Linked DNA regions of Homo sapiens: region 1 is linked to region 2. The links come from fine-mapping of genetic effects on gene expression. Tissue or cell type: whole blood. Region 2 holds a variant in brackets; the other region holds the start of a gene. All regions are shown on one strand. Distances are between the middles of the regions.

What was found. PIP is the estimated chance that this variant, and not a neighbour inherited with it, causes the effect.
Region 1: it holds the start of LATS2, and the variant in region 2 is fine-mapped to the expression of LATS2 in whole blood (INTERVAL, PIP 0.98).

Annotation. Positions count from the first base shown.
Region 1 is chr13:21,059,589-21,063,588 of GRCh38, reverse strand. LATS2 (large tumor suppressor kinase 2) reads left to right here and starts at 2,003. Exons shown (of 8, transcript NM_014572.3): 1 at 2,003-2,243. RefSeq lists silencers at 1,789-2,588, 2,729-3,138 and an enhancer at 2,644-3,536.
Region 2 is chr13:20,936,831-20,941,090 of GRCh38, reverse strand. LINC00367 (long intergenic non-protein coding RNA 367) reads left to right here. Exons shown (of 6, transcript NR_104058.1): 5 at 1,156-1,228; 6 at 2,441-2,527. Among named protein-coding and RNA genes, the nearest start is that of LINC00367, 10 kb to the left of the region's middle. RefSeq lists an enhancer at 992-1,491. The variant C/T (reference allele first, on the strand shown) is at 1,986.

The DNA.
Region 1 (4,000 bases), 120 kb before region 2:
ATCATTTGGATATCTACCTTTCATTTTCCTACCCCTTGACTGGACATTTGGGGTTTTTCTCAATTTTTCACTACTGCAAACAATGCTGAAATGATCATTGTAACTGCAACATTTTTATTAGGTATTTTATGCACAAATTTTAAGGTCCATTAAATCTATTTTATAATATTTTTCATTCCACAAGTGTTTTAAAAATTATTTTTACATCTTTGAAGGCAGAGCAGGAGCAGGATCTTTAAACACACAACAAAAAAAGATTAGCAGCCATGTGGCTTGGGGTTGGGGTGGAGAAAGTATAGTCAGCTTAAGAGTGAAAAGAAGGCCAAGCATGGTGGTGTGCGCCTGTGTTCCCAGCTACCCTAGAGGCTGAGGCAGGAGGATGGCTTGAGCTCAGGAGTTCAAGGCTGATGTGGGCTGCAGTAAGTTATGATTGTGCCACTGCACTCCAGCGTGGGCAATGGAGTGAGACTCTGTCTCTAAGAAAAAAAGGAAAAAATGTGGAAAAGTACATAGGTAATGCCAGTAGGGCTCAATTGCAGAATATTGGCTGGAGACTTATTTTGCTCCCAGTACTGTGCAAGATATCTGGGTAGCATACAGGATACTATCGAAAAATTAAATTGAATTCTAAGCTGCACGATGATGGTTTCTTTTTTTTTTTTTTGCACACTTCTGCTGGCAGGAAGGGATTACGGTTTGATTATCAGAGCCCAAAGAAGAGAGAAAACAGAGATCTGAGAAGATTCCCTGGAAGAGCTGAGGCCTTAAGAGATTGAAAGAGAGGGAGGGGAGGAGGATGAACCAGGGACTGAAGGCTGGGTGAGACTGTCAAAATAGTGCACAGATAATGACCTTTACTACTGTTTCCCATGAGAGTAAAATTTAAAAATTTCACAAGAGTTTGTCAATTAAAGAGGAAATCGAGTTGACTTTAAACACTATATTGACCCTCAGCATCACTTGCCACAGATATAGGTGGTAGGAAGTATGATGTTAGGAGAGCCAGAAGTAGACTGAGGATTTGGCTTCCAGTCTATTATTTCTACTGTGAATCTTTGCACCATCCCTGCTTCTGTCCCTGTACCAGATCCACAGTCCTCAAATGGATAGTGAAGCTGTTCAAAACCCACGACCTCACTTGCTGGTATATACGGTACTATACTATTCCCTACACCATAAAATACTTCTCAGAAAGAAAATATACATGGGGAGGGGAGGTTGATTAAATTAAATCAGGTTAAATTTGGGTGTGCATCAGACGTTCTTTTTTTTTTTTTTTTGAGACGGAGTTTTGCTCTTCTTGCCTAGGCTGGAGTGCAATGATGCGATCTCAGGTCACCGCAACCTCCGCCTCCCGGGTTCCAGTGATTCTCTTGCCTCAGCCTCCCGAAGAGCTGGGATTACAGGCATGAGCCACCACGCCTGGCTAATTTTGTATTTTTAATAGAGACGGGGGTTTCTCCAAGTTGGTCAGGCTGGTCTCGAACTCCCGACCTCAGGTGATCCACCCGCCTAGACCTCTCAAAGTGCTGGGATTACAGGCGTGAGCCACCGCTTCTGGCAAACGTCCTTCTTAATTGTTTGATTCCACTGTCCCAATAGCCGTCTGTCCTTTTCTGCCCCTATTTTTAGTGTCCAGCCACTAGTTGGTAACTTGGTGGCTCCTTCAGGCCTGCTAACTTTTTTTTTTCTTTCACCAAGACTGGTATGAGATACTTAAGAATAGTGGCTTTAACGACAGTTACCAACTTTTAATACAAATGCAGTCGAGAGGGCAAATACTCAAGTTTGGGGGCAGATAGCAGCCAGTCAAATAGGTCCGAGAGGCCCTGGCGAGCTACCGCAGGCCAGCAGGGAGGCCGTGGGCAGGTGGCGGTCGAGGCCGGAGGCAGGAAGCACGGCCGGGCGGGGCTGGGCGGAGCGGCCGCGGAGGAGCAGGGGCCGCAGGCGCCCCGCCCGGACTGGTATGCGGCCGAGAGTGACGCGGGAGGCGGGGTCACGTGACGCCCGTGGAATGCCAACAATGTAGCGAATGTCCCACTTGGGTCTGCGCTTTGGAACCGCGGCGTGAGCGCCCCGGGAAGATGGAGCAGTCGCCGTCCACGCCACCGCCGCCGCCCGGGGCTCCCCCGTCCCTGCGGGGCCAGCAGCAGCTCCAGCCACCAGTGCCCGGTCTCCCGGCGCGAGAGGCCCGGGAGCCGCCGGCCAGGACGCCCCCGAGGGTGTAGACCGCGCCCCTGGAGGTGAGGGGGCTGGGAGCTGGGGTCGGGGCGGCAGCTCGGAGGGTGGCGAGAGTTTCCGCGAAGCGGTCGAGCCCTGCGGCTCCGCGCACCTACTGTGGTGCCGAGGCTCCGGGAAGGGCGCCCGGCGGGGCGGCCGAGGAAGTTTGTCCGGACGGAGCCCTGCGCCCTGCCCCCACGGTCCGCGCCCGCCCGGAGCCGCCCCCGCCCGGCGGCTCGTAGTCCAGGCCGTACGGAGCCCGCGGAGCCGGTTCCAGAGGAGCCGGGGAAGTTGGAGGCCGGCGTCGGGCGGGGGCAGCGGGGCTGCGCCGCTTTGTTGTGCGGCGACCGGGGCGGCCGGGATCCCGGCGGGGCAGGGGCGGCGCGGGCCGGGGGCGGTGTCCTAGACCCGAAAGGCCGTAGCGCCGGGCGCGCCTCTGCTTCCGCTGTCTCCGGGGGATCGGCTTTTCACTAGACGCCCGGCCGGGCGCCCCTGACAGCCTCGGGACCCCCGGTCCGGCGGCGCAGCGGTCCCACGGATCCGGGGCCATCCTCCCGGCCGCGCCATCGTCCCACGGGCCAATCAGTCCTTCAGAGCCCGCCCTGTTGGCCCCCGCCGGCCGCCCCGTCGTCCCGCGAGCCGACGGACCCACGGCGGTGCCGCAGTCGAGGCCGCGCCGCCCCTCAGCCCCCGGTGGCTGCGCCGCCTCACCCACTGCCGCGCGGTTCCCACCCCGTTCCCCGCGGCCGCGCCGCCGGCTCACGGGCCAGTCAGCCCCTCAGAGGCCACCGGACCCTGGGGGCGCCGTTCCTCCCGGGCTGCGGGCGGCCAGGCCCTGCTCGGCGTCTCCCGGCCGGCTGCCGCGCCAACTCTGCGAGTTTGCTCACGGTCTTGGCGGGACGCGGCCCGAGGCGCAGGAGCGCTTTCGTGGCCACGCGAACGGCGGCCGTTGCATAACACGCCATTCCCGTGCCCTAGTTTAGCGACGTGTGGGGGGTTTGGCTTTCTCTTCTGATGTAAGCTCACCTGCGCTTAGCTCCCCAGCCGGACTCTGGAGATGGGGATTCTGACATCATTCACATCTTGCCATCACATCCTTCAGCCCAACTCCAGAACTTCTGGGGAGCTTTCCCTCGGGGATGGAGTGCGGCCTGGAGCAAACCCGTTTGTGAAATGCAAGTCTCCAGTGTCCCGAGGGTTGGGAACGGGGGGCGAGGCGAGGAATGGACCCTGAAGAAGGTAAAACCCACCCGACCAGGGCGCCAAGCAGCCGGTAACAGGGTCCCGAGTTAGCTCGGCGGCTGGCGGCTGTTCTGAGGCCTTTGGATGAGAAATGCTATTTTGCGAGGATCACCATGAAAGAACTTAACTTGCAGATTTTTTTGACAAAAATGTTGTTATTTTAAGACAAGATCTCGCTCTGTCTCCCAGGCTGGAGGGGAGTGGCGCGATCTCGGCTCACTGCAACCTCCGTCTCCCAGGTTCGAGCGATTCTCCTGCCTTAGCCTCCCACGTAGCTGGGATTACAGGCCCGCGCCACCAGCCCAGCTAATTTTGTATTTTTTAGTAGAGACGGGTTTCGCCGTGTTGGCCAGGCTGGCTCTCGAACTCCTGACCTCAGGTGATCCACCTGCCTCCGTCTCCCAGAGTGCTGGGATTACAGGCGTGAGCCACCGCGCCCCACCTGACAAGAATTTTGAACAAGAACTTTTACATTTTCACGCTTCTCTAGGATGGATATGAGTGTTTTTTGTTGTTGTTGTTGTTGTTTTTTGAGACG
Region 2 (4,260 bases):
AAACGCAATTACACATTCAATACTATGATGACGGTTACAAATATTTTATGACTCTATGCCATACTGTCACATTTTATGTAATCAATAAAAATTCCATATTCAAAAAGTTTTTAATAAAAAGCAAAATTATCACTATATAATGTTAAGTAAAGGGTGAAGGATACAAACTGTACGATCTCAGTTTTTTGTAGCAAGAAAAAGAAAAAAATAAATATATCAAAAATTTTACATGTCTGAAAGGAAATACGGCAAAGTTTTAAAAAATGGTGACCTCTTGTAGGTGATACAATTGTGGGTGATTTTTTTCTTCCTGATTTTTTTTTTTTTTTGAGACTGAGTCTCAGTCTGTCGCTAGGTCAGATTGCAGTGGCGCGCGCCACCACGCCCAGCTAATTTTTTGTATTTTTAGTAGAGACTGGGTTTCACCATGTTGGCCAGGCTGGTCTCGATCTCTTGACCTTGTGATCTGCCCACCTCAGCCTCCGAAAGTGCGGGGATTACAGGCATGAGCCACGGTGCCCAGCCTTTTCTTCCTAATTTTAAACATCTTCTGTATATTTCCAAATTTTCTACAGTGTAAGTGTGATATTTTACAGCACGATTATTAGAAGGTAAAAATGGGTGAGGCTCTAGGATTTCGAAGGTCACTTTCAGCTCTAAAATTCCTTAATTCACACAGCTCTTATCACTATGGTTTGTTTGTTTTTTGACTTTCCACTGATAGTAACAGAAGAGTATATTACACATTTCCTAATAGCAATGTTATGCATGTCATTGCCTGAGATTCCTAAATCTTGTGCAAGATTTCAACATTATCTGTAGAACTTAAGTGCTAGATTGTGATCTTTTATGAAGTTTTTGAGTGTTGTCAACAGACTGAGTGTTCAGATGAAAATGCCGGGAGAGGACAATACTCGTAAATGTGCATTTCTACATTTAGATATAGCACATTAGTTAGTGCTTCATCATTCAAGAGACATTTAAATTTTACTACATTATAATAACATTCTTAAGAGTTTCCTTAAGACAAGGAGATAAACTCAGTTATTGCTAAGCAAGAATCTGCTGAAACAGTAAACAAACAGGTATAAACAAGTGCATTTGAGTGTGTGGCCACATGCCTGTCACTCCCAAATTCTTGTCCTTTGTTCCCAGCTGGGGAGAAGGTAAACAGAAATGGAGAATGAGGAGTCTCAGCTCCTGGCCTCCGGCCTGCTCAAGCGAAGGGGTAGGAGATCATCCCGCCACTTGCCAGGGATATTTTGGGGATATATCTGACACTGGGTCACATGCACTAGTTGGCCTGCAACAAATCTCAGTCTCCCAGCCAGTCGGCAGCAGATCAGGCACTCCTGTCTTTGAGCCACTGTGGAAGGAACTAGCCTGGGCAGCTCCTCAAAGGGGCTCTTGCTCACATCAAAGCTGGACAGTCAGCCCCTGGTGGGCTTCAGATTCAAAGACCCCTTCTGCCCCCCATCCTTGACTGTTGCCCCTCACAGTGGTCTCACTCTTTCCTTCTTAATCAAGTATGTGGGGCCCCTTTTGGGACAAGCATCCTGGATCAGGACCCAGGCTTTTGGTGACCCAATCCAACGATTCCTGACTCATCGCCTTCTGTCCCATAGGCTTGCATTCCTCCATGAGAAATCCCCTTTGCGTCTTCTTTCAGAACTAAACTTTAGATAACTCCTTAAAACCAGAACCCAAATCTTAGCACTATCACCCACTCCCCGCAAAGGGTTACTCTCTACCCCTGAGCAAGGATGGCTTGGTCGGGGGGCATGCCCCTTGCTTTATGGTGGATTGTTACTTTTCATGCAGGGAAAAAAATAAAACGAAACATTAGTGTTTTCATTTAAAAACAAGTTGAACAGTCGTCTCCTGTAAGAGAATCCTGGAGCCCCAGACACACCTAGAAACACAAGTCTGTGCAAAAATACAATGTGTAGATTTATGGAAATGCACATGATGTGAAAAGTCCCTAA[C/T]GGATGTGTATAAAAATTCGACTTTTTTTTCTTTGAGTCTCACTCTGTCACCCAGGGTGGAGTGAGTGCAGTGGGGCAATCTCGACTCACTGCAGCCTCCGCCTTGTGGGTTCACACGATTCTCTTGTCTCAGCCTCCTGAGTAGCTGGGACTACAGGCGCACGCCACCATGCTTGGCTAATTTTTATATTTTTAGTAGAGACGGGGTTTCACCATGTTGGCCAGGCTGGTCTCAAACCCCTGACCTCAGGTAATCCACCCACCTCGGCCTCCCAAAGTGTTGGGATTTACAGGCATGAGCCACCACGCCCGGCCCAAGTCTTTTTATTCAACACCTCATTTTATTCTTATGCACTGAATGCCACATTGGTTTCTTTTTTCTCTCTCTCTCTCACTCAAAGCACTATTATTAAATCCATGATGCAGCTTACTTTCAACATTATCTTCAAATTTAGGAAATACCATTGTATCATAAGCAGTGGTAATTCCCGTCTGCCAGGTGTCTACCGGGTGAAGGGGTCTTGCTCTGTGCTGGGTGCTCAGAGCCATCCCTGCCCATCTTCGTGCTAATGCCTGGAGGCAGCCACATTAGCTCCACCTCCTGGCTTGGGAGCTGAGGCTCAGAGAGGACAACTAATCAGCCCAAGGTCCCAAGCTAATATGTGGCACACGGAGATCTCAAACCCAGCATGAGGTAGGTACTGTGACCCCTATTGCACAGATGAAAAACAGACATACCGAGATGACGGGAACTCACTCAGGGCACACAAATGATAAGTGGCAGAGAAAAGATTGGAATCAAAATCCTACAAAAATCCTACAAAATTGAGGTGAGGCACAGTGGCTCACACCTGTAATCCCAGCACTTTGGGAGGCCGAGGTGTGTGGATGATCACTTGAGCCCAGAAGTTTGAGACCAGCCCGGGCAACAAAGTGAGACCCCTGTCTTTACAAAAAAATTTAAAAATTAGCCAGATGTGGTGATGTGCCTCTGTAGTCCCAGCTACTTGGGAAGCCAAGGCAGGAGAATCTCTTGAGCCAGAGAGGTCAAGGCTACAGTGAGCTATGATCACACCACTGCACTCCAGCCTGGGTGACAGAGCGAGACTCCGTCTCAAAAAAATAAAAAAAGAAAAAAATAAATAAATAATTAAAAAAAAAAAAAAAAAAAAAGTCTGGGTGCGGTGGCTCACGCTTGTAATCCCAGCACTTTGGGAGGTGGAGGCGGGCAGATCACGAGGTCAGGAGATCGAGACCATGGTGAAACCCCATCTCTACTAAAAATATAAAAAATTAGCCGGGTGTGGTGGTGGGCGCCTGTAGTCCCAGCAACTCGGAGAGGCTGAGGCAGGAGAATGGCATGAACCTGGGAGGCGGAGCTTGCAGTGAGTCGAGATCACGCCACTGCACTCCAGCCTGGGCAACAGATCGAGACTCCGTCTCAAAAAAAAAAAAAAAAAGAAAATTTAGGACACTTTGAAAACACAGTGAACAGACACCTATAGTAATCATTTTCCCTGTCACTAAAACTCATAAAACAATGGCTTTGAATGGCTATATGATATTCCATTATGATGATATAGCCCAAATTAATTAACCATTTACTTGTTATTGGAAATTTAGGTTATTTCCTATTTTAAATAATTTAAAATGTAAATATACCTTGTAAATAACATCATATTGCATATCTTTATACATGATCTTTTTCTTTTCCTTGTATAAGCTTTATCATGAGTACATAATCTTTTTCTGCATCTTTAATTATATTCTTAAGAACATTTTTAATGCTCTTGTTATATATTTCCAAATTGATTTCCAGTGTATACTCCCAGGAGAGGGTTAATTTCATGGTTCCTCTTGTGAATGTTATCTTTATTTTATTCTTTAAATATTTCTTTTCTGTATTTTGAATAAATGTACAACAGAATGTTATGTGGATTTTCTTTTTTCCCATGTTCCAGAATTGCAGCTGAAACCAAAAGCCCTGGACAAAAAATGTGAAGTGTCTGGGAACCTTAGAGACCCCTCTGGGCTTTCCGAGAAAGGCAAGATCCGCAATCAGCTCTCCAGCCTTCTCACCTCCCCAGCCAACAGAAACTCTTCTGTCTCCTGGTTGGACTTGGGCTCAGCCTCAGCTGTTGATTAGGACAACTGTGTCCCCCAAGCAGGGGAAGAAACCTTGGAAGAGATGAAGAACAGGGAGTGAGTAAGAGCGTGTCAGTTGAGTGACCGTGAAGACAGTGGGAATGGAGGCAGCTTACCCATGTCGGGCAGA